Regions from separate parts of the Homo sapiens genome. Here region 1 is linked to region 2. Evidence: fine-mapped expression QTL. A gene starts in region 2. The other region holds a variant in brackets. All regions are shown on one strand. Distances are between the middles of the regions.

Region 1 (16,490 bases), 640 kb before region 2:
ATATGTGTGTGTGTGTGTGTGTGTGTGTGTGTGTGTGTGTGTGTATATATATATATATATATGTAGACCCTCACTAATTTAAAATTGTTTTTTACTTTTTTGCAACAGACCAAGTTTAAATTTTTTGCAACCTTAACCTGCATTTGATAAACAAAATGTATAACTCTTCAGGGGGAAAAATGTGGGATGTTTTGTTTTTTGTTTTTTACTGGCAATTTCAGTTCTTCATTTGTTTTGCTCTCCACGCTGCATTAGCACAGTTTTCCCCTGTGTGCATCTGCCAGTGTACAATTTAGCCACGGGCATCTGTAGACCTTGTGGTGATCAGTATTGCAGGCAAAAGCCATATGTGTTTAAATAAAAAAAAAATCTCTTTATTTCATTTGCTGTTTTAACTGGATGGATAACTTTTGTGCCTCAAGACAGAAAAAGAAAAAATACAGAAATAATTAATTGCCTCTATTCTTGAGGCAGTTTCATTTCCCCTCCAATATGGAATGCTTGTCAGCTTTCCTGATAAATGACTGCATGTATTTGCATAGATTTTACATTAACACAAAAATTAGTTTTATTTGTGGAAAACTAGTTTACATAATAATATAAAACCCCTGTTATTGATTATGTTTCCAAGCATTGATGACTTTAGAGGGGTGGTAGTATTCTAAATTTTCAAAAGTCTGATCAACCTGTATAATTTAAACTTTCTTTTGATAAATAGTTTTACATTAAGATCTAAAAGACATATTTATAACATTTTAAAGTTTTAAAACTTCTTTTCTAGATATACTTACCACAACTGTTTCAGACTCATAGTAGCACCCATTTGGTAAGAAGATTTTGATTTTGAACTTTTGCCAAGGAATATTTTTAAATACATATTACCAATTACGTACACTTCAGCCAATTGGAAGACTGCATCTATATGAATTACTTTAATTTTCATATTCATATTATGAAAAAAGATGGGTGCTATATTGGATGTGTACAGTTTAGCTAATTCTTGGGAAGTTATGTATTATTTACAACCAAATTTAAAATATATCTGAGAACTGTCCTCTCCATCTTTAACCTATTTCCTTCAATATACTTAATTAATCACCCAGCCCTGAAAAAACCACTCTGCTGGAGCTGTTAGGGTACTGAAAACAATTCTACCTCTCTAAGTGGCAGGCAGTAGATGTTTATTCATACTATAATCTGGCATCTTGTTGTCTAGAGGCAACCTGCTAATTATGTGCTATCGTTGTATTATCCATGTTATGGAAAATTCAAATATGTTCACTACTGTTAGTTACATCGCAAAGCTTTTCGTAAAATATACTTGATCCTCAAGAAACCTACTATACTTAATGGCAACCTAAACCAAGAGTGTCTCTGCCACTTCTTGATTCTGGGACACCCTGGGTGCCAGCTGTCACAGCTCAGCTAATGATGACAAATGCCCCTCTCTATGCAGATTGCAGAGCTTGCAGGCTGCTGTGAAAGGCAACCAGATTACCTTTCTTCAGATAGTAACTTAACCTTTAAAACTCATGTCAGAATGAAATGATCAGCTGTGATAGTTTCAATATCTGTATCTTTAAAAACAAAAATCAGAATAATATCAAATAATGCTTTTAAAAGTTTCCAGTATTTGTATGATTTACAGTGTTTTACCCTTGAATGCTGTAATATTCTTAAATAAGAAACTCTGGGTAAGACATACTTCACAACCACTTTAGAGTGTGTATTTGAACTCTGCGTATAAATCAGGTAATAGGTAATTGAGAAAATTCTCCAGATTGTTTAGTCTAAAAAATAGGCTGATGAAATTTTGAGGGAAAATATGTTCTTCTCTTCACCTGAATGAATGGTAAAGCCTCAATTCTCCCACTGCTTGTACAAGCCTAGCCTGTCCCAAGCCAATAGTTATATTATGTCATTAAAACTTAGTTATTCCAAAATGATTTAGAGAATAATTGTTGCTAATGATTGTTTTCTCTGGGTATTTTCAAATATGATCTTTTAAGTTATTAATTTGTTCTATAGAAATTTATCATATTACAGAACCTATACTTACATGGATTATTCAAAACAATAATGAACACCATTAACCATAATGTAATTCAGAGGGATAAATTACCTATTAAATGAGATAATGCTTTACAATTGCAACATTCTTTTCAATTTACAAAGGATTTATATCCATTAATTCATTTGATACTTAAAATAATTCTGAGCTGGGAAAGATGGGTGACAAGGAACAGGGACCAATATTTAATGAGTATTTAATCTCATTTAATCTTCACAACAAATATTAGCTCCCATTTACAAATAAAGAGACTGAGGTTTAGAAAGGTTGCATCTTACCAGGGTCACACAGGTAATTGCAGAGCCAGGTCTGTCTGACTGTGGCTGCCATCAGCATTACAGTTTCTAGACTACATATGTCCATAGCCAGATATAATTCATAGAAACTGCTACTAGGCTTGCATTTACATAAACAACATAATTGATGAGTTTTAAAGATAGGTTCTTTATAGGATGCTTTTAAATAGGTAAATACTGAGATACTTTTATGTTATAAATTTTAATTTTATAAGGATAATGTATTGATCTATCACATTGGGAGAAACTATTTAGGAAAGATATGTACTGTTTACTGAATATCAAATTGGACTAATTCACCTAGATAACCACTTCATTGTAAAACTTAAGATTAATGGGATATACCTTTATAAATGTGATGAGGAGAAGCAATTATTTCAATAATTACTTGAGTGAAATATTTATATACTTTTCTTTTATAAAGGTTTATCCATATCATAGTTTTACTATGTAATATCAGTGAGCTATACCACCCACAATATTGTTTTTCAGCTCAAGACACATTGAAAACTTCCTTTGATCATGAATTTAAGTGCAGTCATTTCCAAGAAAGCTATGCCAATGCCAGTTGTATTTATTCTGTAGTAAATTATTCTTTGGTATAGATACTAAAATGTGAGGAAATTTTTTCAATGATACATATGATTATATTATTATATAAAGACTATTTTATGTACTGATTAGTAGAATTATATTAGTACTTATATAGAATTAGTACTTATAGTTACTAATCAGTACTTATGCTCAATTTGTATTTCACTCTACATAAAAATTAAAACTTACAGTGAAAATTTTACTAAAATGTGTCATGCAGTTAGTATCAGGGAAAAAAGTAATTCTGCCGCATAAGTCAGACATTTTATATCAGGGCAGGAAAGAACTCTGGAGGATAATGCAATGTAACCCTCTTCATAACTGTCTGAATCTTCTCTACACCATTACCAGCCATGGTAACAACCATAGCCAGAGGTGGTTATCTAACCTCTACTTTTACCTCCATGAATGAGAAACTTACTACCTACTCAGATAGTTAATTGCACTTACAACAGTTCTAGTGGTTAGAACGCTCTTCCTAATATTGAACCAAAATATTTCCCCTTGAAACTTTCACCTTCTGGCCCCTACTTTCCCTTCTGAATAGTATTATCCCTTTAACAAATATATGCTTTTTAAATTCAGCATTTCAGATACCAAGTTGAACATACTCCAGTCTTTCAGCTATTACACCTTTGGCATCTTTTAAGTCACCTCACTGTTCAGGAGCCATTCTGGTACATGATTTTCTTCAAGTACGGTGCCTAGAAAGTATTACTCCTAGAATGGATTGGTACATGTAAAGTGGAGAATAATAGCGAAACATGGGTCACATGAGCTTTTTGGGCATATCCATACCCACGCAGATAAATGCTGTATGTCAACAAATATCTTATTTGTTTAAACATATTATTACCGAGGTCCTAAGTACATGACTTTTGTATTCATCCAACTCATATCTTGCTATTTTTAGGTATTTTTTCCGTGACTTGACTTATAATAATAAGTTATACATCATTATTTTAAGAATCAATAGGCATAACAGTTCTTTCTAAAAATGTGTTCATAAGCTACACATAGAATATTCAGAGCAAAACAATCTAACTTTAATGAATTTAATGTTTTTGCTCAGTTTAAGTGTAGAAGGAAGCTAATCCACTTAATAAGACCTCAGGATACATTGAATTTACTAAATACTCCACAGCCTTCGTATAGTTTTTTTTCCAAATATTTAAAATCCTAATATTAGTTTTTCATAGCTTTATCGAAATGTGTAACTAAGAAGCCTCATTTGGGATAAAGTATATACTTTATGTATTTTGGCATTTATCAATTTTGCTTTGTCAATAAATTTTGTATCTACAAATGAAATCTGCAGGTTTCCCACATGCTTGATCAATGACTAGCAAACTAATAAACTTTCAATGCAAATAGATGTGCTTCTAGGACTTGTAGACTGTTATAGGAATCACCAACATATTGATCTACATATTTTAACCTTTTGACAATAACAAGAGTTTCTAAATAATTTAGCATGAGCAGAGGTAAATACTTTTAAAAAGTGATATTTTTAATAACTTGAAGCCAATGTGAAAATTTGTAAATTAAACCAAAGTAGTCACAAGACCCATTATGCTCAGTTGTTTTCTTCAAGTGCAGTGCCTAGAACTGAATATTCAGTATCACAGAGTGAACTGGTGAATGTAGGGCAAAGAGGCCTCCCTTAAGTATTAAATACATTGTTGGAAAAAACGTATTCTGAGAATTCTCAAAACACATTTGAGAAGCAGTAGTAAAATACAAAATGCATTTTAATATATATTAATTAAGTAATTTGTAAAATACAAAATACATTTATGTCTGTATGGGTGGCAAAAAAATTGCATTAACTTTTTTGTGTTAAAGCCTTGAATTTCTTTAAGTGCAGGCGCATGTTTTTATTTGCCAAGTTTTTTTTTTAATGAGGATGTTTCATTACTACTTTATTTATTACTGCTGTGACATCTAGGCAATAAAAGACAAAGACAGCCTGCCTGAAATTTGGCTTTCTTGCAGTTTGTATCTTGAATGGGGAATAAAGAAGTCCAGTGCGTTTACAACAGAAACATTCTCAAGTGAAGAGCTGCCCCATCTGTTTCATCTGGTGGCTTATGCAATAAGAGGTGTTATCACATGAATCTAAATGCACAAGCGGTCGTTTTATGAACTCTTTCTGTGCTTTGAGGAGTTTATAAGTTGCCTACTCTATTGTGTATCAGTCCCAGCTGACCCAAGTGCATTCTGCTGGGCATATTTGGGGGATAATTAGAACTAATGAAGCCTGGAATACAGCTAATTCTCTAAGTGATTTATTCTTATGCTCTTCTCTGATCCCTAAGAATTCTCCAAATCATAATCTATGCCACTTATTTTTTCCTAGCATTGTGTTGATACAGCTACTTTATGCTTAGCTGATGGACATCAAAAGTAAATTCGGTATTTGAAAGGCTGAGAAACATGTTTCAAAGTAAAACTTTACGTTACTTATTAGTCCCCAGGCTTGAGAAGAATGCCAGTTCTTCAACATTTTATGTTTTTGTTTAAATCTCAAAATGTTTATGGCACTTGCAAGTAGATAATAGCATAGAAAATATAAAGCAATAAAAGCTCATTAAAAAATGTACCACTGGGAAATCAAACCTACAAGTAAAATAATTGAAAATTATTAATGGAAGTTTCCTATTTCTTAATTAGGTTTCCCAAGGAAATCTGAAGTTTAAAAAAAACTTTATGAATAGCTTTCATGTTCCAAAGCTGTTTCATTAACCTGGCTTCACTGTCCTAGCAGTGTTGAAAATGATGTTTCTTTACGTGCCCTCACCAAGTAGTCAGTGATTCAGTGGCCTGTAACGCTGTAAATCCCATCAACTTGCTTTCCTTTCCTGTTATAACTGTTTCAATGAGTGGCACTTTTGTTGTGCGGGTTCAGATCTGGTAGCTTACTGAGGGCACACTAGAATGAGGACAGACACAAATGCCAACAAAAGAAGGCTATAACTTTATTAAAGCCTTATACTCAGTAAATAAGATAGTGGAGCCACTTCAGCTAAGTAGTTTTATAAGCTATGTCCTATTTGATCTTCTGTTGTCTAGAAACTATAGTAGAATTTATTAAGAATTGTTAGTTTTACCTATTGATTCCAGTGTTTAATATTTACCATATTCTAGAGCCCAGATAACAAAACCCTTAAGGGCAAGTACCACTTTATTAGTTAGACATACTGAAATACCTGTACTAATGTAGATCACCAACTAGACTGATTATCAACCAAAGGACCAGTTGGAGATTCCTGAATCTCATTACAGGATACCTAATCCAGCCTCAGATAAATTCTAGTCTTAATTGTATACCCTGACGTAAGAAGTTACTGTTTCTCATATTTTACCTTCTGCCTAAAAGTCAGCTAAACACTCGAAAACATGTCTTAGGAACTTGATGAAAAGTTGCAGGTCATTTTTTTAAGAACATTTTTACATCTTTAAACAAGACAAAGAACAAATTGGTAAAATTGGCTAAAACTGAGTTTTTGTTATTTGCAAGTTATTCTGCTAGGTGCTTTATCTATATTACTGTATGTACCTTCATCTTCTCAACACTATGAAGTAGAAACTTCTGGCCTCATTTCATTGTTAAGAATCTGAAACACAGAGAATTCAAGTAACTCTTCCAAGTTCACAAAGCTAGGAGTTAGCAGAGTTAAGATTTTCATCTATGCCATCTGGCCCCAGGCTCCAGAGTGTGCTTTCTTAGTCATCATATAGAACCTCTCTAAGTTTGTCTTGTCATCTGTAGAACAGGGATAATTCTGTGTCATAGGGTTGTTGCACAGGTTAAATAAATTAATACACATAAAAGTTTATGTGTTTTAAAAAGAATATTTTTAAACTTATATTACCCAAGACCACACAGTAACTAGCAAAGATAGGACTCAAACCCAGCTTTTTCTATCTCCAGACTTCTGAGTTTATGTAGCATCATGCTTAGGTATGTTTGTTGAATGAATAATTAAATGAATATCATCTGTTCTGTACTTCCCAGTGGAAGATTTTGTTAATTTTGCTGGTTATTTTGATAGCATATAGCAGGTACTCAGTGCCTGAATGAGTGAAGGATTTTTCAAACAATACTCGCCAATATAATATGTTCTATACATTGATCACTCTTAAATTTATATCTCTAGCCAAGACCTCTCCCCTTAATTTCAAGCTGGTATGTTCAGTGGTCTTCTCCACATCATCTCACATATATAAGATGCATTTCAAACTTAGATTCCCAATTGAGCACCTGCTTCTCCATCAGTCATCTGTACCTCAGTAAACTGCAGTGCCTTTTTTCCGGTTTCTTAGGCCAACAAC[A/G]TGGCTGTCATCTTTGACTCCTCGCTTGCTTGTGTACCCAATATCCAGAGTGTCAACAAATCCTCCAGACTCTGCCCATCTCTCACCAACTTTACAGCTTCCATCCTTGCAAGCCACCATCATCTCTTAATTTATTTTTGGTGCCCATTATCCTGTATGTGTACTACTGGTTATCTGAGGCAATATAGAATGAGAAAAAGTACAAGGAATTATGCTAGGGAACATAGCTTCTCACTAATATTCCTCTGTGAGGAATATGATCCAATAGGAATAAATGAGAAGGAATGTTCAGAAAAGTAAGGCGGAAAACTAACAGATATGACTATCTTAAATGCCAAACACAAGAGAGTTGTAATAAAAAGTTAGTGGACAACAGTTCAGCTACCACATAGAGTTCAAATAACATAAAAAGTTCTTTGTCTTTCCACATCCGTATCAATGGAATTGTAGAGACAGAAGCAGATCACAATAGGATTGAAGAGTAAATCGGAGGTGGAAAGTGAGGTAGACAATACACTTTCAAGAAAAGTAGGATTGAAGACTATTCTAAGTGAAGTAACTCAGGAATGGAAAACCAAACATTGTATGTTCTCACTCATAAGTGGGAGCTAAGCTTTGAGGATGCAAAGGCATAACAATGACACAGTGGAGTTTGGGAACTCAGGGGGAAAGGGTCAGAAGGGAATGAGGGATAAAAGACTATGAATTGGGTTTAATGTATACTGCTCAAGAGATGGGTGCACCAAAATCTCACACTAAAGAACTTACTCATGTAACCAAATACCACCTGTTCCCCAAAAACCTATGGAAATAAACAATTTTTAAAAAGTAGAAATAAAGGAAATGCAAGAGATAGTATGGTAATTATGAAGTGATGCAAGAAAAAATTTTAAAGGTATTTGAACATATTTAGGGCATAGAGAAAGAAGCCATAGAGGAGAGGTTAAAGTTAAAATGAAGGACTAAATCATGGAGGTCTCTCTATCTCCAAGATCAGTAGAAGGAAATGGTATCATTGTCTTGAGGCTACAATGAGAGATGGCTTTTTTCCTTGAAGATAAACTCTACACAATTATTAATATTGCATTTTATTTTATTCCATATGTATTTGTAACAGTGGAGGGTGAGATGTTGGGTTTAGGATAAACAGGTGGAGATCTGAAAATGTAGCAGGAAGAAACTGTTGCATTGTGGAAGATAAATTTGTAGATGGTGGTTTTTAAAGTTGGTGGATTATACAACTAGGCCTCAGTTTTCTCTTGGCACTTAAAGCACTGGGACTGAGGTAAGCTTCAAGAAGGGACTTAGATGTTTAAACTGTCACTAAAAGGAATGGGAGATAACGATGCTGAATCCTGCTTTACCTGGCAACCCTAGATGAAGGAGAAAAGTAGATGTAGTAAAATTTCTAAATAGATAAGTGACTGAGATAGCTTAAACATAGGCAGAATAGTTTACTAAGCGGAATATGGACACAGGCATAGACTGCTGAAATACAAAGAAATCAAAGAATTTTAAGATTAAGGTACAGAATAGATTGTCTATATGAATACTGAATTCTCTAAAAGTGATTATAAGATTCTGGGTGGAGAGGGAAAGAATTTTGGGGAAAGAAGACCCATGAAGAGTAGAATGAATGCTGTTAAGTGAATGGAACAGGAGACAATCTGAGTCACCAGAGCCTGCACAAAACAAACAAATGGGCCTAAGAGGGGTTGCTGGGATTTTGGAAGCCAAAAGATAACTTGATGAAATCCTTTGTAGCCTAATGCTTTGAATACTTTTGAGAGATTTGATAAGCAGTTTTATCATCAACAACTAATGATATGGGAGTTTATTTAAATTTATTCCTGGAGCCAGGGAATTCATAGACTCTTATTTTAAAAGACCCTAACATTCCATATGAAAGTGTTTTTTAGGTGTCTGCCCAAGTGATAATCCACTTTAGTATATCTGTTTCCAATACTACCAAAGTGTCCATCAGGATATTTTGGTAGGACCTAGTCATATGTTTTATTTGAAGTATGTAAAACTGCCAAAGATACTTTACTCTTAAGTGTTTTCATATCATATAACTTTCTTTAGTTTCCCAGTAGAGTGAGGAAGCCCTCCATTAGGAACCAGAAAGCTTGGGTTTTAGAGCTTGCTCCTTTTTGAATAGAATATACAATCTTTATTAATGAGCTTAGTTTCCTGCCCTGTGTGATGAAGGCATTGGAGTAGATGATTTCCCTTCTAAAATTCATTCAGTTCTCTGTATTATTTAACTTTGAGATGAGTACAAAATAGCAGCAGTTTTACCTTTAAAGGTGTATCTCGTCATGTGCAACATATACCTTCCTGAAAAGTTAGCATATTTTTATTATTTGAATTATATTTAAATATATCTGTGAATTTATTCTTCAAAGGATCCTTACAATAAATCTTTTAAAAATGAATTCATTTTATAAATTTAATGATTTCTTTATAATGTATAATTTCAAATTTAAATCTTTAGTTATTAAATATTTTTAAAAACAACTCTATATATTTGTCTTTATGTAACTTTATAAAGGGTATAATGAATATGAATATAAGGAATACAAAACCAATGATAAGTAAGAAAATAGTAAGAAAGTAATTAATCACTTTAAATGAATTCATGACTTCAGGGTACTAACAGAATTTGGAGGTTTGATTGAAGGACCAATCATTGTTGAGGAATTACAGAGACAGTGAGATATGTCAGAAGACTAGATGAGAGCAAAATATTAGAGAATTTTGCTTGGCACCTTCTGATCAACAATGGTAACAAAAATGTGATTAAGACTTAAGGGAAAAAGTCAAGTCTGCCTCAAATCCTGTGGGTAAGCAAATAAGATCTAAATTTTTGAAAAATAAATCTGTAGTCTGATAAATTAAGATGTATTAGGTTGGTGCAAAAGAATCGTGGTTTTTCCCATTACTTTTCATGGCAAAAACTGCAATTACTTTTGCATCAACCTAATATATTGTAAGCCCTAGAGCCATCGCTAATAAAATAACTAAATAGATGTAGTTAAAAAACAAGTGAAGGAATGGCAAAAGAAGGCAGTAAAGGAGGAAGAGGTGAACAAAAAAGATATGAAAGATACAGAAAACGAAAAGCAAAATATCAGATGTAAATCCAACCATATCAATAATAGCATTAAATGTAAATGGATTAAACAGTCCAATAAAAAATCAGAGACAGGTGCAGTGGCTCCGTAATTTCAGCTCTTTGAGAGGCTGGGATGGATGGATCACTTGAGCACAGGAGTTTGAGACCAGCCTGGGCAACATGGCAAAACTCCATCTCTACAAAAAATAGAAAAATTAGCTGGATATAGTGGCACATTCCTGTAGTCCCAGATACTGAGGAGGCTTAGGTGGAAGGATCACCTGAGCCCATAGAGATTGAAGCCGCAGTGAGCTGTGACCACACCACTGTGCTCCAGACTGGACAACAGAGTGAGACTCTGTCAAAAAAAAAGAAAAGAAAAGAAAAAAAAATCAGAGACTGTCGACTGAATTAAAATAAAAATAAGATCCAACTCTGTGCTCTCTACATACAACCAGATGCTGTTAACTATGTGTTTTGACCCAGTTTAGGTTCAAAGATACAGATAGGTTGAAAATAAAAAGATAAAAAAAGATATGCACACAAACAGCAACCATAAAAGACCTAGAGATGGCTACAATAATATCAGATAAAATAGACTTTTACACTAAATAAAGCCACTACATACAAAGAGAAACACTTTGTAATCAAAAAAGATTAGCTTATAGGGGAGTTATAACAATTATAAATATATTTGCACCTAACAACAAAGCCCAATGTCCATAAAGCGAAAACAGATAGAATTGAAAAAAGAAATATTAAATTATCCAATAATAGTTGGAAACTTCAATACCCCGCTTTCAATAATGAAGACAATAACTAGATGTAAGATTGACAAGGACATATGCTCCTCAATTTACAAGGGTGTTGCATCCTGACAAACCCATCATAAATTGAGGAGTGTATTTTATATGTATCATTTTTGCACCACTGTAAAGTCAAAAAATCATAAGTCAAACCATCATAAGTCAGGGCACATCTGTAAATAGAAGACTCAAACAACACTATAAACCAACCAGACCTAATACACATCTGCAGAACACTCCCAAGAACAGCAAAATTTCTTAGTGCACATGGAACATTCTCCAGGATAAACCATATGTCAGGCCATAACACAAGCCTCAATAAATTTAAAAGGATTAAAATAATACAAAGATTTTTTGACACAATGGAATTAAAAATCTTTCTACAGTTGACAAACTGAACAGCAAATACTTTGGATGATAGGCAAGATTCATAAATGATATAGAAACCATGCCATGTGACTTGAAAGAACTGAGGCTAGTGTACCCAACTAAGGAGTCTAATTTGGATGGTAGAGATGGGGATGAAGTAGGATATAATAGTTTCCTCTAAGAAGCCTGTCGTTTATAGCAAGGAGAATATTAATATGTATACATGACCTTCCAGAGGACACAAGTAAGATAATTGGGTGGAAGTTACAGCACAAAATAAGGAAGAATATTATAACTGTACTTTTCAGTTCAGTAAGATATAGGCAGTATTGTACTTCCCTTTTTAAAAAAACAAGGTCTCATTATGTTGCCCAGGCCTGACACAAACTCCTGGGTTTAAGGGATCCTCCCACCTCAGCCTCCCAAGTAGTTGAGAGTGACTAGAGTCACATGCCACTGTGCCTGGCTCTACTTTCATATATTGTGTTCCTTAAATTGGATTTTTAAAGTCCTATGTAGAAAAGCCAAACAAGGCCAGGTGTGGGGGCTCACTCATATAATCCCAATACTTTGATTGGCTGAGGCAGGAGGTTAGCTTGAGCCCAGGGGTTTGAGACCCGCCTGAGCAACATGGTGAGATCTTGTCTCTAAAAAAATGAAAACCTTAGCCAGGCATAGTGGTGCACACCTGTGGTCCCAGCTATTCAGTAGGCTAAGGTGGAAGGATCACTTGAGCCCAGAAGGTTGAGGCTGCAGTGAGCGATATTGTCACCACTGCACTCCAGCCTGGGTTACAGAGTGAGATTCTGTCAAAAAAAAAAAAAAAAAAAGAATAGAAAAGAAAAGAAAAAGAAAAGTCAAACAGTGGTTTTTAATAGCTGTTCTTCTAGCAAGGATAAGTTTAATTCCTGCAATATGTCTTTTCTCAAAAAGTCAAGGAGAAGCCTTAATAACTGGAGCAGCTTGGTGTGCAGGCACCTCTACCGCTCCCAGGACTGGAGCTAGAACTTAGATATTGAATCAGGACATCTCATGTCTTTCTCAACAAAATAATGCTCCCTTCCCCCAAACAAATTTACCAAACTCTAAATATATTATTGCACAACTTCCTTATGGTTTGGAAGGAACTTTTTCCTAACTTTATCAAATCTAAAGAACCATGAAGCAACTCTTTCTCCTAAGTCTATGCTTCAGTCATAAGCACTGTGAATTACGCAAATAGCTTAGTTAGATATGTAGATGAGTTAAAAATAGAATCTGCAAAACAAAATGCAGATTGTACAAAAATTAAGGATATGATCACCAGTCCAGGATCACCTCCAATAGGTTATCTCATAAGCTGTGAACATTGCCACTTAAAGTGATTCACTCAGGGCCTAAGGAACCTTCTGTAGGAGAAATTGAGGAAGTGCTTATACTCTGTATGATTTCATATACACATACAAAAAAGTGGACTGAAAAATATAAATCTATTTTGCCAGATGTTCTTAACATTTATATTTATCTGCATTAAAACAATGTTTTTGTTACTGGAGAGTGGAATTTTCAATAAGATTTTAATAAGAAAAATTATTTCATTTGCTATATTCTCTCAGAACATAAATTACACTGTAGCAGTAAGTTAGACTTTCTTTCATACTCTGGAAGTACATTTTAGCATATTATTCTTCCAGTAAACTACCTGATATCTATAGAGTGCTGAAGAAGTTAGCAGCCAGATTATTTGGTTTACCTACAAGAGATTAATTTGCATATCAGCAAGGTCTGCATAAATCTGGGTGCAGTATCTTTCAGTCTTTTCTCTGTTTTGTAACACTTGACCCATCAATTTAGATAGTACCTTGCCTGAAGTACAAAAATGAGGAAGACATGTATATTATCTCTTTTAATGATAGGCAAATGAGGAATCAACTCTTACAGGTGTCTGGGAGATTTCAGACTATGTATTTATAATCTTATTTAATATTATATAACCAAATATTTTTATGCCTTTCCACTAATTTTCTACCAAATGCTTAAAGAGAGTCTATTTAGAATAAAAACCACTTGAATGGATTATTTATATTAAGAGCTTACTAAACATTCTTTGTAATATTGGCTATTATTTTTTACCTTGAATGTGTTGCTTAAATTTGGACTTTTTCTCAAACACTATTGGTATTTTAGTGGCAAAATTATTTAATGGTAGATGTTTAACATTGGAGATCTTAGCATGTATTGATTTGCACAAAAATTCTATTCTTTAAAGGTCATATGTACCAAATTTCATAAAGGAAATGCATTGGAGATGCTTAGTAGACATTTTCTTAGGCACTAAGTATTACTTGCTTATAAGGATATTTTACTGTTTATGTATAGGTTAAATACTTCACTTGTAATGTCCATCTTGTAAAGAAAGTCCTCTCTGTGTTGAAAATCTCTCATTGCTAATCTTGTTTTTTTATATGTCCAGTAAGAGTTACCAATATATCTTTCATGAGCTATGGCAAATCATTGATAATTACTGTTCAATTTATTCCTCCCTAGGCAAATGGGTTCCTTTGTAGTACCTAGGACAAGGGATCCACAGGCAGGAGTCCTCTGGCATTGATGACTGATGGAATAAGCCATAGTGACACATAGCTACTATACCACATGAGAGCATCATGATTTGTTTATTTTAGAACTGGTTGTAGCAATATTAGAGGATGAAATGATTTTCTTAAAGCACTAGGAGAGTGGGGACTACATCATCAGGATAACTTAAAGAAAAGCTGCTCAAAAACAAAGTGTCCCAGTCTCTTCAATAAATTGTATTCTCTCCTTGACTATTTAATTTATGCAAATGCACAATGAAAATATTTTTGCTTCATATCTGAATCTTCATAAGAAAATGTATATTTAAAAATAATAAAATCATATTTTTCAGTTATCTACATTAAATCTTTTATTCATGTTATAGTTTAATTACATGATATCTGTCTTCACCAATGGAAATGTAATGTGCTAAATGCTCCATTAATTTTTTCCCCTTATACCTTATGCTCAGTTATGCCTGGTACAAACGACATATACTTTTCTGATATTATTGATGAGGTGTTCATGACCTTTCTGTTGAGATTTGTGTGGTGGTGCTGTTTAAAGAAAGAGTACTTAGTGGAATTTGTGTGACCACACCAGGCAATTGAAGAATAGGTATTATTTCTGGCCTTGGTTCTATAACCCAAGTTAATTATAATCACTTTAAGAAGAAAACAGTCTTGCTATAGCAAGCTGTTTTGGGTTTTCTTTTTCTAAATGAGAGAAAATTGATGTGATGCTTTTTACATTGCATTTTACAGCAAAGCATAAGATCTGTTTACCTGGTTGAAATTCAAATTGTTTTATTATGGTGTCAATTCTTTGGTTTTGGCAGCACTTCTAAAGTGTCTATTCACAAAAAGACTCCCATAGTGAATGAATGCTAGTGTTGACACCACCTAACAAGCAGGGATTATGTGTTTACAGAAGAAGTAATATGATAGGTCAAGTATAAGAGGCACTTCTCAAGAGCACTTCAGCACATAATGAGTGACTGACTAGAAAGTGCGGAGCTGCCACTCTTTGGCTTGGAGTCCGTGTTGATGCCTGCCTCTCTTCTCCAAAGCTCTCTTGATCATGTTCAGCTGCTCTGTTCTCATGTGGGGAATAATAGTAGAGTAAAGCTGCTTTTCTGTCTCATTTTTCTTGCTAATTTACACATTCAAGCCATTTTTTGTTTGCTACCCTTATTTGCTATTCCCTTTTGTCCAGGCACTGTTCTCTTTTTTGCCTCAGGCCTAAGAACTAATTTGAGCTTCTATAATTACTTCATGTTTTACACCTGTCTGCGTATCATGCACCCGCTTGTCTCTGTACTTAAGCTGTATATTTCCTTGCAGAAAAGCTAGTTTTCATATACAAGGACTCCTAAGTTTCTCCCCTCAGACTGCCTACAGAAGAAACACAATTAAACTGTTGCGATATCCTCAGCCATGCAGCTGACCTTTGCAGTTCATGAAGGACAAATGAACGCTGTCTGCTCAGACAGTTTGTGTTAAGACATTGTTGAGCAGAGAGCCTGAGCTTTGTTCCTCATGAATGAAGCAATGGTTGTAGTCATTTTAAAATCATTAAGACTCTGAATGCACAGTCTCATTCTACAGTGTTTGCTCTACAGCTGCTCTTCTGCTTTAATAGCAGCTTATTAAATTTGGGTCAAGCGTACTCTGAAGAGTATCACAATGAAGAAACTGTTCTAAAAGTTACCTGTTTAAAAAAAGGCAATTGATTAGATTTTTAACTTAAGTGACAGCTGCAATTCATTGCCTATTCTTTGTGATGTCCTGCAGCCCAAGCAGCCTTTTGTAATTTGGGCTTCATTTTGCAAGAGCTTTCCTGAACAATCCAGGGTTGCTTTCCACTCGGAGCCTGCTTCAATCCAATTAGGAGTTTAACAAGGGTCAAATTAAAGAGACTTTACACTTCATGTTTGCATCATTAGCCATAAGACTGTTATGTGAGTGCATGACTGTGTGTCAGGGAAGAGGGGGAAAGGCTGCAGGATGGGACAGACACAAAGCTGTCATCCACCGTGTGGTGTGCTCCTTTACTGATGGAGGCTCAGCAGGCTAGCAACAACATTTCCAGTTGTCTTTTGGGGTTGCTGCCTTGTCAAATCAGCTGGTATATAGTTGTTTGGAGGTTACAGGTGCTAGCTGGGGCTGATAAAGAAGAGTGTTTTTTGCCTACTCTTTTCTCTTCTGGTAGTCTGTTGTGATTGGACAAACGACTGGGAAGACATGAAGTTGAAACCTCTTGAGCATTCATTATTTTTGATGAGATGACAACTATCTAGGTTCATGTTCTCACTCCTCGTGCTCTTTCCTGGCTCTTCTTTTTTT
Region 2 (16,490 bases):
AGAATATTCAGTCGGCAGTTACTTCACATTGATTGAGGGGAAAAACTCAATATAGTAGTTGAATTCATAGCACACAGCATCTTAGAGGTAGTTATGAGCTCAAGCTTTGGCACTAGCCTTCCTGGGTTCAAATCCTAACTCTACCATTTCTTTCTTTGTGAGTTTGAGCAGATCATTTAACCACACTGTACCTTCCTTTTCTCACCTTAATATAAGGATAACAGTTCCCACCTCCTAGGATCATTGTGAGAATTAAATGTATTCATATATGCAGGGATTTGGCCAGTGCCTGGCACATGCTCAATAACTGAGAGCTATCATTATTACCTTCAGTCAAGACATCAGTCCCTCAGAGAAAGCATTATTTTGCAGTAAAAGACAAAGAAGATGGTGACAAGCATGCCATAATTTTGCTGGTCCCTAGATGTGAAGGGAGTACTGTCATCTACCACCTCCCAGACCCTCTCCTTGGTGGATGGGAGTCATTGGAGTATCTTCGGCCACTTCTAAGTAAAGATCATTTCTGGGTGGGAAACTGATTGAAGTACCCCAACCCCCATAGATGCTACACAAGTGACTCTGGAACAGAGTGAGGTGTCAACCCATGGCTGTCTTAGGATGTGCTTTGAGATCTTGCCATATTTTTCCCTACAGTACTACCGGCCCTCAGAGGGACGGCTTGTTGACTGGTCATGCACCTGACTTTGCGTATAACTTTTATCCAGATCCCCTAGACTATACCACCAAATGTTTCATTTAACCTTGGATTTCCAAAGGTCATGCAAAGGACAGGGCACAGAAATTAAAGCTGAAACAGTAAAATTTCATGTTAATTCTTCTCCTTTAATTTACTGGAAGTTCCACCCTCTGAATAGAAGGAAAAAGGCCAAGTCCACAGGCATGTTGGCAGCATGTCAAGTCACCGAAAAGGGATGTGAATTCCCACAAAATAAACACAGGCTCCTCTGCACGCTCTCAAGGCCAGTCACACTGTGATCAGGCTGGCATTTCTGCCAAGGGATGAAGGGAAGCAAAAAGGGAGAAGTCCCCAGCCTTGAATCACATACATACACTGGTTACAAAGCAGGACAAGAGGGCTCTGTCAGTGTGCGGTCAGGGGAGAGCAGCCCCCAACTCCAACGGGGCTGCAACGGGTGCTTCCTGCTACCTGCACAAGAGAGGGAGGGATTATATGGCATCCCTCCTGGACCCAGTTGAGTTACACGGCCTGAGCAAATAGTTCTGGAGTAAAAATGAACTCAAGGTGAAATCAAGCTCTTCCAACACTCCATCCAACCTCCCTTTCCCAGATTCTTTTGTGCCATCTACTTCTTCATCATCAGGGCCTTGAGATCTCAATTTCAGAAAAATCAACCCTCCAAAAAGGATCTGCTAGCTTTTTTTGCACCTTGGTATACATTTAATCCCAGTCTTTTTTCTCCAACTCATTTTAATTGGCGATGATTTCTAAGGCAATGACAGGCTTTATGCCCTGTTCAAACAGGGTCAGTCCTGAGGCAAGTGTAGCCCAGAGTCGGTGACCTTCTCTGCTTGCATAAGATACCAGGCTGCATCCGTGGACGCAAACAGTCCTATTTCCACATTAAATGTCTAAAACAGATAATGACTATTAACCTAAATTGGACTTAAAAAATTAAACTGAACAGATTAGTCCCTGCATATCCTCAAAAATCAGAGAAAGACAATAATCCTTTAAACTCAAAAGGAAGCATCGCAGTGGAACGAGCTGTCAGAAAACCTGTTTTGGTCCAGGGTCATCACTATCTTACCACGTAACCACCGACATGTCATTTGAATTTTCTGGTCCTTAGACTCCAAAGATAAAATTAATGGGTTTGATAGCTATCTAAGGTTCCTTTCAACTCTAAAATTTCATGATCCATTTGTCATTTTCAATTCAAGTACTTTCGGATATCGTGATAGCAAAAGTTTAATTTGCATTTAGAAACGAATATAAACTATGAGATTGAAGAGATAAAATGGACTTTTAAAATTAATGCAGCATGGGTATGAGAAAGAAAATAGAGAATGCTGTAGAATTAGGGACTTTTTCCCTTAGCACATTATTATAAGCTACCTGACAATACCATTAATTTTTTTTCCTTTTTACTCTACACAATAGCACATTCGTATGTCTGAAACTATAAGGATCACAGCCATAAGGCTGAATGTCAACTGTCAGAGGGCAAATGCGAATCGGCTACAACACTGGAAATCTGAGCCTGGAACCTGTAGGGTCACGTGGGGGTTATCTCACAGCGCTCACCTTCCACCAGTTGGTCCAGGCTGGAAATCTTCTTGAGCCCATCAATGGTGTAGATTGTTCTCACTCCCTGGGGCAAATTCACGTTATCCGACAGAGTTCGGGTCAAATCAGCCAGCAGGGCCTCAAAAGATCGGAACCGGTCTGGGGAGATGGCATACACAATCCCTTTGAAGTATCGATCTCCGTTTCGATAGAAACGAACTTTCTTGGCCTTCTTCTCGGAGCTGAGCGTCTGCAGCGTGCGGGTGCGGTAGAAGCTGCAGTGGGCGCTGTGCGTCGGGCTCGGCAGGCCGTTCACCCGCGACCCTCGGCTGTATCTCTGCGCCTTATCCCGCTCGTCGAAGTGCTCCAGCTCCATGTCTCTGCCGAAGGACATGATGGACTTCAAGTAGGACCTACGAGCCCCAGAAACAAAAGCAGACACACATATTGATGTAGGTTATATATATATATATATTTTTTTGTTTTTGTTTTTTTTATGTTAGGGACAGGGTCCTGCTCTGTCACCGGGCTGCAGTGAGATGGCACTCACTGAAGTACTCACTGAAGCCTCACACTCCTGGGCTCAAATGATCCTCCTGCATCAATCTCCCAGAGTATCCGGGACTACTACAGGTTACAGGTGCCTGCACCACGCCTGGTTAATTTCCTTCATTTTTTGTTCATTTGCTTGTTTTTAGTAGTAGTGATGAGGGTCTTGTTTTATTGTCCTGGCTGGTCTTGAATCCCTGGCCTCAAGTGATCCTCCCCCGCCCCCCAACCCCTTTGGCCTCCCAAAGTTTGGGGATGATGTTATTTTGAGATCATGATTTCAAAGGGTCTGCTTCAGAACAGCTGGGTGGAAATATTGCTTTAACTGATGACACATTTAATATGAGTTATCAAGTGGGACAGAAAGAGAAAGGGATGTGAATTCCCACAAAATAAACACAGGCTCCTCTGCACGCTGTCAGCAGAAGAGGCCGATCCCAGTGGAAACAGCTTATTAATCAGCCACAAATTTGTTAGAAGCAGCTCCTAGGTTGCCCATGGTTCATCAGGCTTCAAACAGATATTATTCCCAATAGACACAACAACTTTCCAAAGTATTGTCCTTCCTTACAAAAGAAGAAACTGAGGCACAGAAAAATTTCCCCTAAATTGCTCCAAGTAATACAGTTGAGAAATGCTTGTACCAGCAACTCTGTTCCAGGTTTCCCTGACTCCAAAGCCCACTGCTCCTTGCAGGGCAGAGGGCTAATCCTGGTAGCAGGAAGAAAATAAGCTCTCATATCATCATACAGTGAAAGAGAAGTAGCTATGGTGGGCTGGGACAGAAAGAGAGGGCAGGCAGCATAACAGTCAGATTGTAAAAGTTTTACATAATGTTTGTGTGCCCCATGGCCAGATGGAGAGCAAATTAAATCAATCTGTAGGTTGGACCAACTTAAAGAAGATTTTCCAACATATTCACACATTCAATATTTTTAAAAGCAAATTCACTATACTTCATTTACTTATATTTAGTACTTCAGAAAAGTTGAGTTTAAAAAAAGAAGAAAAAGGAAGAGAAGGAGGAGAAGGAAGAGGAACAACAAGAAAGGAAAAAATGTTTGGAAGTACATTTCTTGGTTCTTCCTTTCATTAAGACTATCTTTGTGATTGAAGAAATTGAGGCTTAAAGATGTCGATTTACACTTGACCCCATGCTAGCTGTGTAAGCTTGAAAAATCTACTTGCTCAGCATCTTTAAGCCTTGATTTCCTCAACCACAAAATGGGAATGAGAACAGTACCTACCTCACAGTCAGTATTAACTATTAAATAAATTCATGCACATGAAGTTCTTATCATAGTGTCTGACATGTGATAAGTACTAATTTTTTTATTAATAAAATCTGTTTTTGTGTTCCTGGCCCTGACACATAAAGAGCTAGCAGGAATAGAATCTTTCCTTTCTGGCAAGAGAGGCCCCTGCTTTCTTCCTGATCTCCATCTCATGACCTTTTGAAAGGTACATCTGTACCCCCTGGTCCCCACAGCAAGCTGACTGGAGGACCAGTTCATCCTTGCTGAGGGGTTGGTTGATAAAGGTTTGTGGAGCCTTGCAGGGGAATCTGTGGTTTAACAAGACAATCTAGAAAGTGGAAAGACCAAAGCATTCAAAGGAAAGACACTTTAATGACAAAATTTCAGGCATGTTGAAATAGAATATCAGGAAAATGGAAAATTTGGAGCAAGAACCTTACAAGCACTCCCCAAGTCCCACCATATTAGATGGACATCACCTTTCTGAAGGTCAGTGAACACTCACCAATGCACCACTGTCTCCCCAACCTTTCTTTGGCCCTCAGTAAACTGACCTCTGATCCATTCAGAGTGGCTAAAATTTCACACCTGAAAGCATGACTAGAGATTTGGTACTCCAGAAATGAAGTGAAAGAAAGCAATATTTACTGAAGGTCTAGGAGGTACCTGACACTATTACTCATCAACCAGTTGTATAATATGCTAAAAATTCTCTTCTAAACCTCATATTAATCCAACAAGGTAGGTAATATTATTAATATTCAGGTGAATATGGAATTTATCCAGGGTCCCAAAATTATAACTGAGGGGTTGAGATTTGAACCCAGATTTACTGTAACTCCAAAGCTGGTGTTTTCCATCCCTTGCTCCTTTGAAACTGGTTCCTCTTCAGCATGAGAAGCAGGATTTTGTAAGCCCTCACTCCTAACTAGCTCAGTGACCTTGGACAGGCCACATAACTGATCCAGACCTCGTCTGCACACAGAGGAAGCAGTGGTCAGCAGGCCTCTGATGTTGGTGATTCTATCTACCTGCTTATGGGTCTATTGCTGACCCCACTGAAGGTCTGGGGAGGGAGAAATGAAGTGTGATTTAAACCTGGAGTGTTAATGAGTTCAGTGTACTTTTTTCCCTCCAAATATGAAAACTATTTCTTGCCTCTTAATAACTCATAGTAGTCAGAATTTGCATTTTTCAAAAACAGTTATATATAGGCAGCTCTGAACTGGTTTCATTGATTTTGATGTTAGATAACTTTAAAACAATGATCCCTTGATATCCAGTCCTGTAGGCATTAGTTGTTAAACAGAACCAATTTTTGTCCAGGATATTGGTAACTGCTCTTACTTTTTAATTTATATGGTTTTAAAGTGAGCTCTCTTGTCTTCTAAAAGGGAGTGTGTCTTGGGGGTGGAGTGGAAGACACTCCCAGTACTCACACCAACTCACTAAGTTCTTCAACATTTTGTAAATTATAAAGGCCAAACTCACTTTTGAAGTTTGTGTTTTATTCTTAAAGGCAGTGATCATTCTCCCAACACTAGGAGTTTGGGGATTTCCTTCCAAATTGATATAAACTAAAAGAAAACAAGCAGGGCCATAGGGAAGGATGGCACAGTTCTGTTACCAGAAAGAGTGCACATCGAATTCTCAGTGACTGACAATTGGCAAAGGCCAAATAATTTGGCAATAGTTAGAATTCCCTGGGGGAACGGGCTTTTAGGACCAAGAATTCCCACACCAGATGAAAAAAGAAGAAAAGAACAATTTAAAATAGAAAAAAGGTTTACTTTGTTTCATTTTATTTGCATATTTCCTCAAACTGGATCACAGGTTCATCCAGGGCAGGGCTACACCTTTTACTTCCCTTCCCTGAATCTGTCCAAAAGTGGGCAATGGTGTCGACAAAAGAAACCATACTCAGAGTGAAATCATTTTCAAGGCTACAGCTACCTCTAAATGGAGCACACTCCACACCCTAGTGTGCTGGTAATTATTCGTGGCAACAAAATAGGTGTTCTTTCCCTCACCTTGGCTTAGTCATACATTTGAACCATGCATGAGCTTCTGAAGATCCACTGGCCTTCCACAGGTTTACACTTTCTGCACAGGAAGGCTGCGAGAACACACAGCTCAATGTTCAGAGACCATAGGTGGCCAAGGGCCTGAGTGCACATGTGCAGTGGCACCAGGATGGTAACCACAGCACCTCAGCCACAGCGACCACAGACACTGGAGGTAAGAAGGGCCACTGGCTCTCATCAGAGCTTTTCCTATAAATCCTGCCATTTCAAGAAACCAACATCCCTGATTGTTCTCGGTGGGATTTCTCACCATTTTGAGGAATCTATGTTCATCCTTCTCTAGATGAGCACATGGTTCTTGTTTCAGAAATTTACACACATATATACCAAGAAAAAAATGGCATAAATGCTACCACATCTAAATAGATGCTGGACCTGGAAGTCCCAAGGCATATTTTAACCGTGGGATTAGGATTCAGGTGGACTGGCATGAAATAAAACGCACACATACCTTCCAGGCCCGTGCACCACCACGGACGTAGACATCACAGGGTGTGTGCATATCTTTTATAATTTTCCTCTATATGACCTCTCTTAAAAAATCCCTTCTGACCTGCATCCATGTGACATTTCATACTTAAAACGCTGTCCTACTTTCCTTTCCCACTGAAAGGCAATATATTTAGGAACAGTCATAAAATGTATTCACGGAACAGCCTGCAGTGTGGTCGCTGAACGTGTGTGCACCGTGCCTGGACACACTCACAGGTGCAGCAGAGAGGGAGCCGGTTTGAATGAAACCTTTCATCTTCTCTCTCACCGACCAAGCATCTCCTTGCCAAATCCAGGAGCAATTCCGCGCAAACCTGGTTTTCAAAAGCAGCCTCTTTTGTGGGGCATTGCGGGGCTGTGCGTGCGCTCCCACTAGGAGGAAAAAATGCCATTTCCTCTCCGCAAGCTTTTAGCACTGCAGGTACTAATTTGAACATGAGGCAGCCTCGCTGTCCCTGAAGGAACTTGAGACCCTGCAAACGTACTTGCAACACCCACGCTGCAGCCACCACCACGCACGAATCGACCCCATCCACAAGCACACATCACTGGCCCGGGCACACGGAAAAGCACACACACAATAAGAGGCCGGGCCCGGCCACTCCTTCCTTGGTTCCCGCTCCGCAGCCAGTTCTGACAATGACAAGCACCTCTCCCAGCTCCTCCGCCCTGGCTCTCCATCTCCACTAACAACGCGAAAAGCCTGGGAGGGCCCGCTCGCCTGACTCCAGGTTTAAAGCCCCATGGCACCAAACAAAAGAGGCAGGTGCCAGCAGCCCCGGGGCCGCCCGCACGCAACGCCCCCGGGTCGGGCCAGGCTGGCCAGGGCAGGGCGGCCGCCTTTCGAGGAACTGCGGGCGGGGCGGCGGGGCCAAGCTGAGCGCCCGCCCTGCCCTCGGCGCCCCGCGGCTGCGGGCGGAGCGGGCTCTGCGGAGTCCCCCGGCCGCCCTCCCCGCAGCTCCCGTCCCCAGGGAAGGCAAACCACGCACCGGTCCGCGGAGAGACGCCGCCGGGGGTCTTTGTGGCCGCGCTGGGGGCCGCCTCCTGGTGCTGTCCTCGCCGGGCTGGGCGCGGCCGGGGCTGCGGGGCTGCAGGGCTGGGGGGCGGCGGCGGGGCCGGGCTGGGCGGCAGCAGCTGCTGGAGCGCGGCGCCTCGGTTGCGGCCACTAGTGCAGGGATGTGCCTCGGCCCGTCCTCATTGAAATGCGGCGCTTCGCACAGCCTCACTCCAGCCTCTCTCTCCAGAGGAGGGCGGCGGCGGCGGCGGCGGCGGGCGCGCTCCCTTTTCTTGTCTCACTCGCTCACACGCCCTCCCGTCTCCCTCCTCCTCCTCCTCCTCCGCGTGCGCGCCCCGTCGCCCCCGCCCTTCTTGGCAGGGCGCACCCACCACGGCTGCGCCCCAGGTCCTCCTCCCTCCCAGCGCCCTCTTCCCACCGCAGCAACCTCGGTGCATCTGGCTTGACTACACCCCTAAACCTCCCTAGTCCCCACAAGTAGTCTTTGGGAGATGGGGGCAGATCAGATGGTGGAAGAGAACGTGGACAGGGCTGAGTCTGAGCCAGGAAGTGTGCAAGGCACAGAGGTGATATGGCCGAGAGATGAGGCCCCCACCGTCGGGGGAGGGAAGGAGGTACCCACACTCATACCTTTTGATGTGACCTCACGGTCTGACACCTTTCCCAGGGTATGGAAGCCAGTGGATCACCTTCTCATCCTTTTTGCCCGGGATGCACCCACGCAGTGCCTCTTCGGATGACCAACCCTCCCAAGCTATGCACTCTGGTGCCCCCCACATTGGGAAGAGCTGGATCTGTTCATGGATCCCACCCATCATCTCCACTTAACCCCAAGACATGAGTCACTCTTGGAATAGTGACCTCTGCTTAGAGTCAAATATGTTCCAAAGGGCCCTTGAGAACTGAAGGGCCAGGTTTCACTGCTGGACACTTTGTGGCTGCCAAGGCTGGGTCTGCGGTGGAAAGCCCCATGAGCTCATGCGAGCCTCTCCTCCCAGAGGGGGAATGTTCTCCTAGCCCAGGCTGTTCACAGCTTCCTCCAGTCTTTGCACAAAAGTCCAGGGAGTGGGAGCAGCTCCCAGATTTCGGTGAAATCTTAGACTGGCTCAGTACGCAGCCTGAATTTTGATCCAGTTAATCTGACTTTCAATCCTGTCGTCCACAACCTGTGTTTGTCCCAAATACACATGAGTATACAAAATACACATAAGTATTTTTCTCTCTTCCTGAGCCTACACCTTTCAATGGAACATTAAAATTTTATTTTTCTCTTGCCCATTGATCCCAGTTATGTGTTTGACTACTTATTATTAAAAAGTTCTATTCTGAAATACTTTCCAAGTATGATGTAAATGTTAAATAATTACCATTTGTTTTAAAACACAGCTCAAATGAGATCCATGCTACATATTCCACAAGTGATGCGATATTTATTTTTGAACTATTTAATAGCCCAGAGATGAGAGTACAGTGAACTCACCAAATTAACTAAATGCAAAGTAGTAAGCCTATTCTTTCACATTCTGAGGCAAAATGAGAGCCATAGGGGTAAATTAAGAGAAAGGAAGAAGCCAAGTACATCTTCTGGAGAACAGAAATCAGAGCTTCTTTTTATCTTGCCAATGACAAATGCCAAGTGATTTCTTCCAAAATGCTAAGCCAAGAAATAAATTTCATCTCTTAACCCCTATGGATATTCTACTAGGGTCATTTCTTAAGAGCTTTAAGTAACTCACCATCATCTTACCTCTTCCTAGCTGTTGTACCTAGCACACACAGATAATGTGTTCAGAGAATCACCTTGGTGTTTGACTCTCTCAGTAGCAAAGTGCTCTCACTAGAAATAGTTGGGCATCATTAGCTCTTTAAGGAAACCAGGGGGCAACTGATAATTAAGTAGATGAAGACATTAAATAGTATACATTGGCCCTACAGTATGGTCATATCATTTAGTCCAGGACAGCAGGCTGGTACTAAAGTTCATTCCAGGGCAGCTTAAGCATTTGGCAAATCTAATTTATATTCAACAATAATTCCTTATTGAAATGAAATCTAACTAGAAAACTCCTAATTCAAGTAATTTTCAAAAACGAATGCTACTTCCTTTATATTACTAAGATATTGATCAAAGAAGTGAATGGAACTAATACATCCTTTCCCCCAGGATCATCTGAAAGTATTGGAGATCTCATTCTAGCTCCCAAAAGCAAATGCTATTTAAGCTGTACCCCAACTACCGCCCCAAGCAGACACAGCTCTATATCCTACAGGTTGAAAATGACTAGGCCTCAACTCTCTCAGTGGCTCCCATTAATTTAGTGCTTGCTTTTTGCCATGCTGGGGGCTTTCATACATTTTCTTACTTCATTCTCATAAGAACCATGCAAGGTAGGCATTGGCATTATTATCCTCATCTTACAGATGAAGGAATTTAGACATAGAGAGGTTACATCATTTGCCCACAGTCATGTAGCTTAAAAATGTCAAGCCCAACTTCAATATTTAAAATCGGTATGTTTTAAAATTCAAGTCAGTTTTTCAATTGCTAAGGCCATATGCTTATAAAGCAATACCAAATTCTAGTGCAAAGTGTAATCTTTTTTGGAAAATGCAGTCTTTTAATCAAAGAGCTTATTACTTCATAACAGAGAGTTAACTCCTTGCTATCATGAACACTGCTTCTTTTAGTGATGGATCCCCTCAAATGTGTCTTTGGACTAAACTTCTCATGAGGACATTTGCACTTTAACCTCTGGCAACGAAGAGGATGGATAATCTTATCTAAGTGTGCTTGTCTTCCTGAATGTAAGGTTTTAGTGCAAACCAGGAAAGAGACAGAGAACCATTATTCTTCGGAATAATACTTTATAATTCACCATGTATCTTTTTTCAGGTTCTTTTCATTGGCTTCTTCATAAACAATATGCTTAATCATGTAGATGCGAGTAGAACTGTAGAATGAGAATATGAGCAGGAAGAGATACACTTCCTGTTTTTCCCTCTAGGAGGAAGAATTTGCTCTGGCTCATTCATAATCTCTCCTCTGTGGCTATGGGCATATAGTGCTCCTGGGTTGGGAGACTGTGTATATGTAGTGGCTGCCACAATTGTGAGAAGCAGCTTTACAGAACATAATCGTCAGTCTGATTTTCCTTTGTATTTCTTTTCTTCTGAAGGCTCTGTATGGCATTTCCTGATAGTTTGTCTAATTCCCTCTAATTACAGAGAACATACTTCTGGCTTCTACTAGAATCACAGAAACTCGGTGATGTCAGACCTTGGCAGAAGCCTATCAATTTTTACCCAGTGCATGAATTCCCTCCACAACAAGTTGTCTTCCAGCCTCCATTCTGTTGCGTCTGTGGCAAAAGTGAAGAGGAATAAGATTATCCCTTTGAGTGTTAGGATAGATCATGGAATTCTAGACACAGTAAATGAGATCTTTAAAAATAATTGTTTTAACTGGCTGTTTACCTTTGGTTTGGCCCTCCAAACATGCTGAGGTCCAAACTACATGAGATTCTGGACCTACACAGAGGAAGAAAGGCTCCTACTACTCTCATAGAACCTCTATAAACTAGCAGAGAGCTTCTGAAAGCTCTTTTCTTCGTTTCCTGCCTAAATGTAATTTGCTTTAGTAAAGGGGAACTCTGCACAGCCCACTCCCCTGCTGGACAGCTCCTCAAATTCAACTAAGATCCACTTCCCTGGAATTTTCCTGTGTACCCTGGGTCTACCCTTTAGACCTGTGGAGAACAAATCAAATGGTCCTGGCTTTTGCTTGACAGTCTCATTACTTTCTCCCAAATTTGACTCCTCATTAACTAGGAATCCTCAGCCCTTCAACTGCTTCTCATTTGACATCTTTGGAAATGCTCACAGCAGTGCAACTGTCAGTGTCTCCCTCCACATCTGCCTCCCGGAACTGGGCATGGCACAGCAGGGGTGGTCTGACTAGGGAAGCTCCATGACTTCATTGGCTGTTGACACGGTGCTTCCATTATAGGAAGCTAACGTCTAATCAATGTCTCTGACAGGCATGCCATGCTATTGACTCATCCAGTCAATAAAAATCTCCATGCTTTTCACATGTTTTGCTCTTAAGACCACTCATTCTGCATTTGTTTAATTAGATTTGGGGGACCTAAGTCCAGTGCCCACTTGGAATTTTCCTTTATTAACCTTGCGTATTGTTATTTGCTCCCCCATTGAAACCTGTTGAGTGAGATCCTTTTGGATCCTAATGAGGGCGCATTATACTTGAATGATCCCTCCAGCATCCTATCAGTCTGATTAACACTGCACCAACATCATCATCTCAGTTGTTGATAAAAGCTTTCAACAGAACATGGTCACAGCAGGCTCCATCACCTTACTGCCCACGGTCTCTCTCCAGGTTGATGGCTGATGGCCAATGACTCTCTCAACGTACTCAAGTAATTAGAGGTTAACATGTTCTCTCCAGAAAATAATTATCTAGAGATCCAGTGATAGGAAAATTCACATTTTTATATGAAGGATTATATCCTTGACTTCAATGCCATTTTGAGGTCATGAGTTTTACAGACCACATAATTTTTCATTCATTCATCCATTCATCTAATAAGTAATTTTTGAGTGTCTCCAATGTGCCAGGCACCATGCTAGGTAGAAGTAATACAATCATGAGATAGAGTTACAAATATCCTGTGCCCAGGCATTGGTAGCTTGTAGGGAGATTGGATTAAACCCATACTTACACAAACAATTATTTAAGTACCGTGAAGGAAAAGAACACAAATAACTTCAAGGAGAGTGTTTCTTCCCCGAGGAAGTAACATTTAAGCAGAGACCTGAAATTTGCCAGGCAACAAGGGGGAAGGGCATTATTCCAAGGAGAAGAAATAGCTGAGTGAAGACTTTGAGTGGGAAGCAGCTTGTTCAAGGAAGAAGAGGTGGGCAGAGTGGCTGGGGCACAGGCAGACAGAGTGGAGAGAGGCAGCTGCAAGAGTGGGCAGGGGACAGCACCCCACATCCTGAGGGCCTTATTAAGGAATGTGGACTTGTCCTAAAGAAAAGGAAAATCACTGAAGGATTTTAAGCAGAGAAGTGAATCTGAACTTAGTAAAGTATTCAAATCTGCAGAGTTCTTTAAGTCCATAGATTAAATATGGCATCTCCAAGTGAAAAATAAAATTATGTAAAATTACAGGTTATTCTTGATACAAGGATTTCAGAAAAATAAGAATGTATACTTACTTATACATTCTATCACTGCCCCAAGGAATGGAGTAATTACCCCAAAATTATGAAAATTTTACTTAAGGATCCTAAAATTAATCTCAAAAATAGTCACCTTTGCTAAAATACATCTTGTTTTTTGTTTTTTTTTGAAACAGGGTCTCACTCTGTCACCCATGCCATGAGTGCAGTGGCATGATCACGGCCCACTGCAGCCTCAGCCTCCCATGCTCGAGTGATCCTCCCACCTCAGCCTCCTGAGTAGCTGGGACTACAGACACTTGCCACCAAACCTGGCTAACTTTTTTATTTTCGGTAGAGATGAGGTCTTACTATATTGCTCAGTCTGGTCTGGAACTATTGGGCTCAAGTGATCCTCCTGCCTTGGCCTCTGAAAGTGTTGAGATTACAGGCATGAGCCACCATGCTAAGCCCTAAAATGCTTTCAAATAGAATTTTATTTAGCCACACTCTTTGTTCCAGAAATTTTTTAGAAACAAATAATTTACTTTTTATATTTATTAATGTATACTTATATTAAAATACTGTATGCTACTCTGTTAATTATATTTTATATAATTATATTTTCTGAGAACTCTCACTGATTCTATAGAATACAAATATTTAAGAAGTCACAATAGTTATGTAAGTCTTCTAAGCATGTAGCAGACCTCACCTGAAACACCTGGGATTTTTTAAATTAGGGGCTTAGACAATAGTGTTTGTCCTTTTATAAAATACGCCTGTAGACTGAATAATTTCATAAGTAAAGTCAAAGAGTCATTGGCAAGTTTTTAATGTATCCCAAGGAGTCTTTTAAAATTTAATTTAATTTGTAGAAGTGGATTTTTAAAGGTATCTTTTAAACAAAGAGAAAACGTACTACATTTCTGCTGTTGATAATCTTTTAAGTGAAAAAAATCAAAATATTTTTGGTACATATATATTCTAAACTTTTTCATGTATATGTATATATACCAAAAGTGTAGCTTTAAACAGAAAAATGTAGGATGCTAACAGATGTAATGTATTGTATTATAACTTCTTTCATTTAACAATTAACTCAAATGTACCATAAATCTAAATGCAAAAACTGACACAATAAAATTTCTAGAATAAAATATGGGAAAAACATCTTTGTGACCTTTGGCTATACAAAGGTTACTTAGAGAAGACCCAAAAACATGAAACATAAGTAAGAATTAGCTAAGATGGCTTTTATGAAATTAAAAAACTTTTGCTCTTCAAAAGACACTGTTAAGAAAATGAAAAGGCAAGCCACAAAGTAGCAAAAAAAATTTGCAAAATATATATCTGATAAAGATCTTGCATCCAGAATAAAGATCTCTTACAGCTCAACAGGGAACAGAACAAAAAAAGGGGTAGAAAGGCAAAAGATTTGCACAGACACATCACCAAAGAACACATAAGAATGCCCAACATCTTTAGTCTTTAGGGAAATGCAAACCCAAACCACAATGAGATGCCATTGCACACCCAACAGAATAACTAAAAATAAAAAGACTGATGATACCAAGTGTTGGGGAGGAGGTTGAGCAGCTAAAGCTCTTCATCATCCCTATTTGGAATATAAAATGATATGATTATTTTGAAAAATAATTTGCCAGTTTTTTTTGTACCTACTCTATGACCCATCAATCCCATACCGAGATATATACCCAAGAAAAAGAAAAATATGTTTACGGAGACTTGTATTTAAACTTTTTTACCAGTTTTATTCATATTAGGTAAAACAACAACTGAAATAAATATTTACTGGTGAATGGATAAACAAACTGTGGAATATGCATACAGCTATTTAAAAAGTGGAACGGCTGATACACACAACATGGGATCTCAAGGTATTATGTTCAGTGAAAAAAGACAGGCACAAATGACTACATGCTGCATAATTTCATTTATATGAAATTCCAGAAAAGGCAAGAAAACCAGATCAGTGGTCACAGGGCTAGAGGTGGGAAAAGATTGGTTACAAAGAAGCATAGGTAAAATATGTGGGATAATGAAACTTCTATATCATCATTGTGGTGATGGTTACATACAGGTACCTATTTGTCAAAATCTACCACATTGTACACTTAAAACAGGTCAATTTTATTGTATGTAAATTACAGCTCAATGAAACTGATAAAAATGTCCATACACCAAATGCAAAGTCAAAAAACAAATGATAGGCTGGAAAAAATATTTGAAATATATGTGACAGACAAAGATTACTCTTTCTAACTTACAAAAAGCCATAGAAATTTATAGGTAAACATCAAGCAATCTGATAGAAAAATGAATAAAGTGTATGCAGTTTTCCACTTTAGAGTTGATGCAAATGGGTATTAATCATATGGAAGGATGCTCAACCTTATTGAAAATTCAGGTTGAAGTAAACAAGGCAAACATGAGATGCATTTCCCCTCATCAGCCTGGCATCTATTAGAAAGACTGATAAAATATATTGTTAGCTAAAATATGGAGGAAAGGACACTCTTATACAACAGCTATAATTTTTTTGGAAAGCAAATCGCAAACAGCCTTTGATCCAGCAAGATCTATTCTACAAAAATAAAAGCACCAGTACAAATAAAATTGTGTCTAGAATGTTCATTGCTGATCTTTCCCTACCATCAATGGTAAAATTCTGGCAGGAAAACTACTGTTTATAAATAGAGAAATGGCTGAATAAATTGGAGCACATATATACATACTACAGAATAACATGCTTCTATTAATAACATACGACTTAGGCTACATATATTGACGTGGAGGAATATGATATGCTGTTATATGAAAAGGCAAGTGGCAGAAATATTTATAGTATCATCTCATTATTTGGTAATGAAGAGAAAGAAAGAGAATCTGTATTGTGTATCTGTTGGCATATAATTGTATGAGCTTACAGAGCTAAGGATAAACATGCATCCAAAAGTGTAAATATTGGCTGCTAAGGAGCCAATAGTGGGGGAGACAGATTGTTGCCGTTTTCTTTGTGTATCTCTATGTTAATGCCCTATCACATGAACACTTTCTGGTTTTGTAGTTTGAAAAGAAAATAGTTTGAAAAACTGCACAAAGAATGAAGCATATTCCCCTCCCACTGCCCCCCACCCAGTGCTCAGAACTTTCACAACACTAACCTAGTACGCATGGATGTGACACCAAACTCTGAAAAACTCTCCTACCCTTCTTAGTTCTAATAAAATGTGAGGCCAAATGATAGAATATATTGTTTTTATAAAAATCAGTGGGTGTGGTTCAAGTAACAAATACACACACAAAGGGAAAAAGAACTCAAATTGGCTTTACCCTGAGAGCACTGAGCTTTAGTTTTCATAGCCTCCCAATGCAGGAAGATTGGAGACAAAACCTAGAATATGCTTATCATGAAATGCTGAAAAGGAAACCCCATACACTGTCAGAGAAAGGGTGCCTATCTCAACATTTTGTTTTAGGTTAAGGAGGAAAATATTCCCTAAGAATTTAGGTATACACTCTGGGCCTCATGTAGGTTTGCAGCCTAAATTCATATACTCCTGGTGACCTAAAAAGCCTTGAAGCTCTCAATTCAGTTTAAAATGGTTTTCAGGCATTTA

Which allele goes with the higher level. Positions count from the first base shown, and alleles are read on the strand shown. Sizes are in standard deviations (SD) of each study's normalised expression.
For the expression in vagina of the gene that starts at base 7,908 in region 2, A is the low allele of the variant in region 1 and G is the other (large effect, 1.0 SD a copy in GTEx).

What was found. PIP is the estimated chance that this variant, and not a neighbour inherited with it, causes the effect.
Region 1: its variant is fine-mapped to the expression of DCLK1 in vagina (GTEx, PIP above 0.99).

Annotation. Positions count from the first base shown.
Region 1 is chr13:35,484,232-35,500,721 of GRCh38, forward strand. The region is part of intron 41 of NBEA (neurobeachin); the gene reads left to right. Among named protein-coding and RNA genes, the nearest start is that of MAB21L1, 16 kb to the left of the region's middle. RefSeq lists an enhancer at 14,546-16,490. The variant A/G (reference allele first, on the strand shown) is at 7,297.
Region 2 is chr13:36,123,475-36,139,964 of GRCh38, forward strand. DCLK1 (doublecortin like kinase 1) reads right to left here and starts at 7,908. Exons shown (of 17, transcript NM_001330071.2): 1 at 7,640-7,908; 2 at 2,288-2,682. The coding sequence starts at 2,663.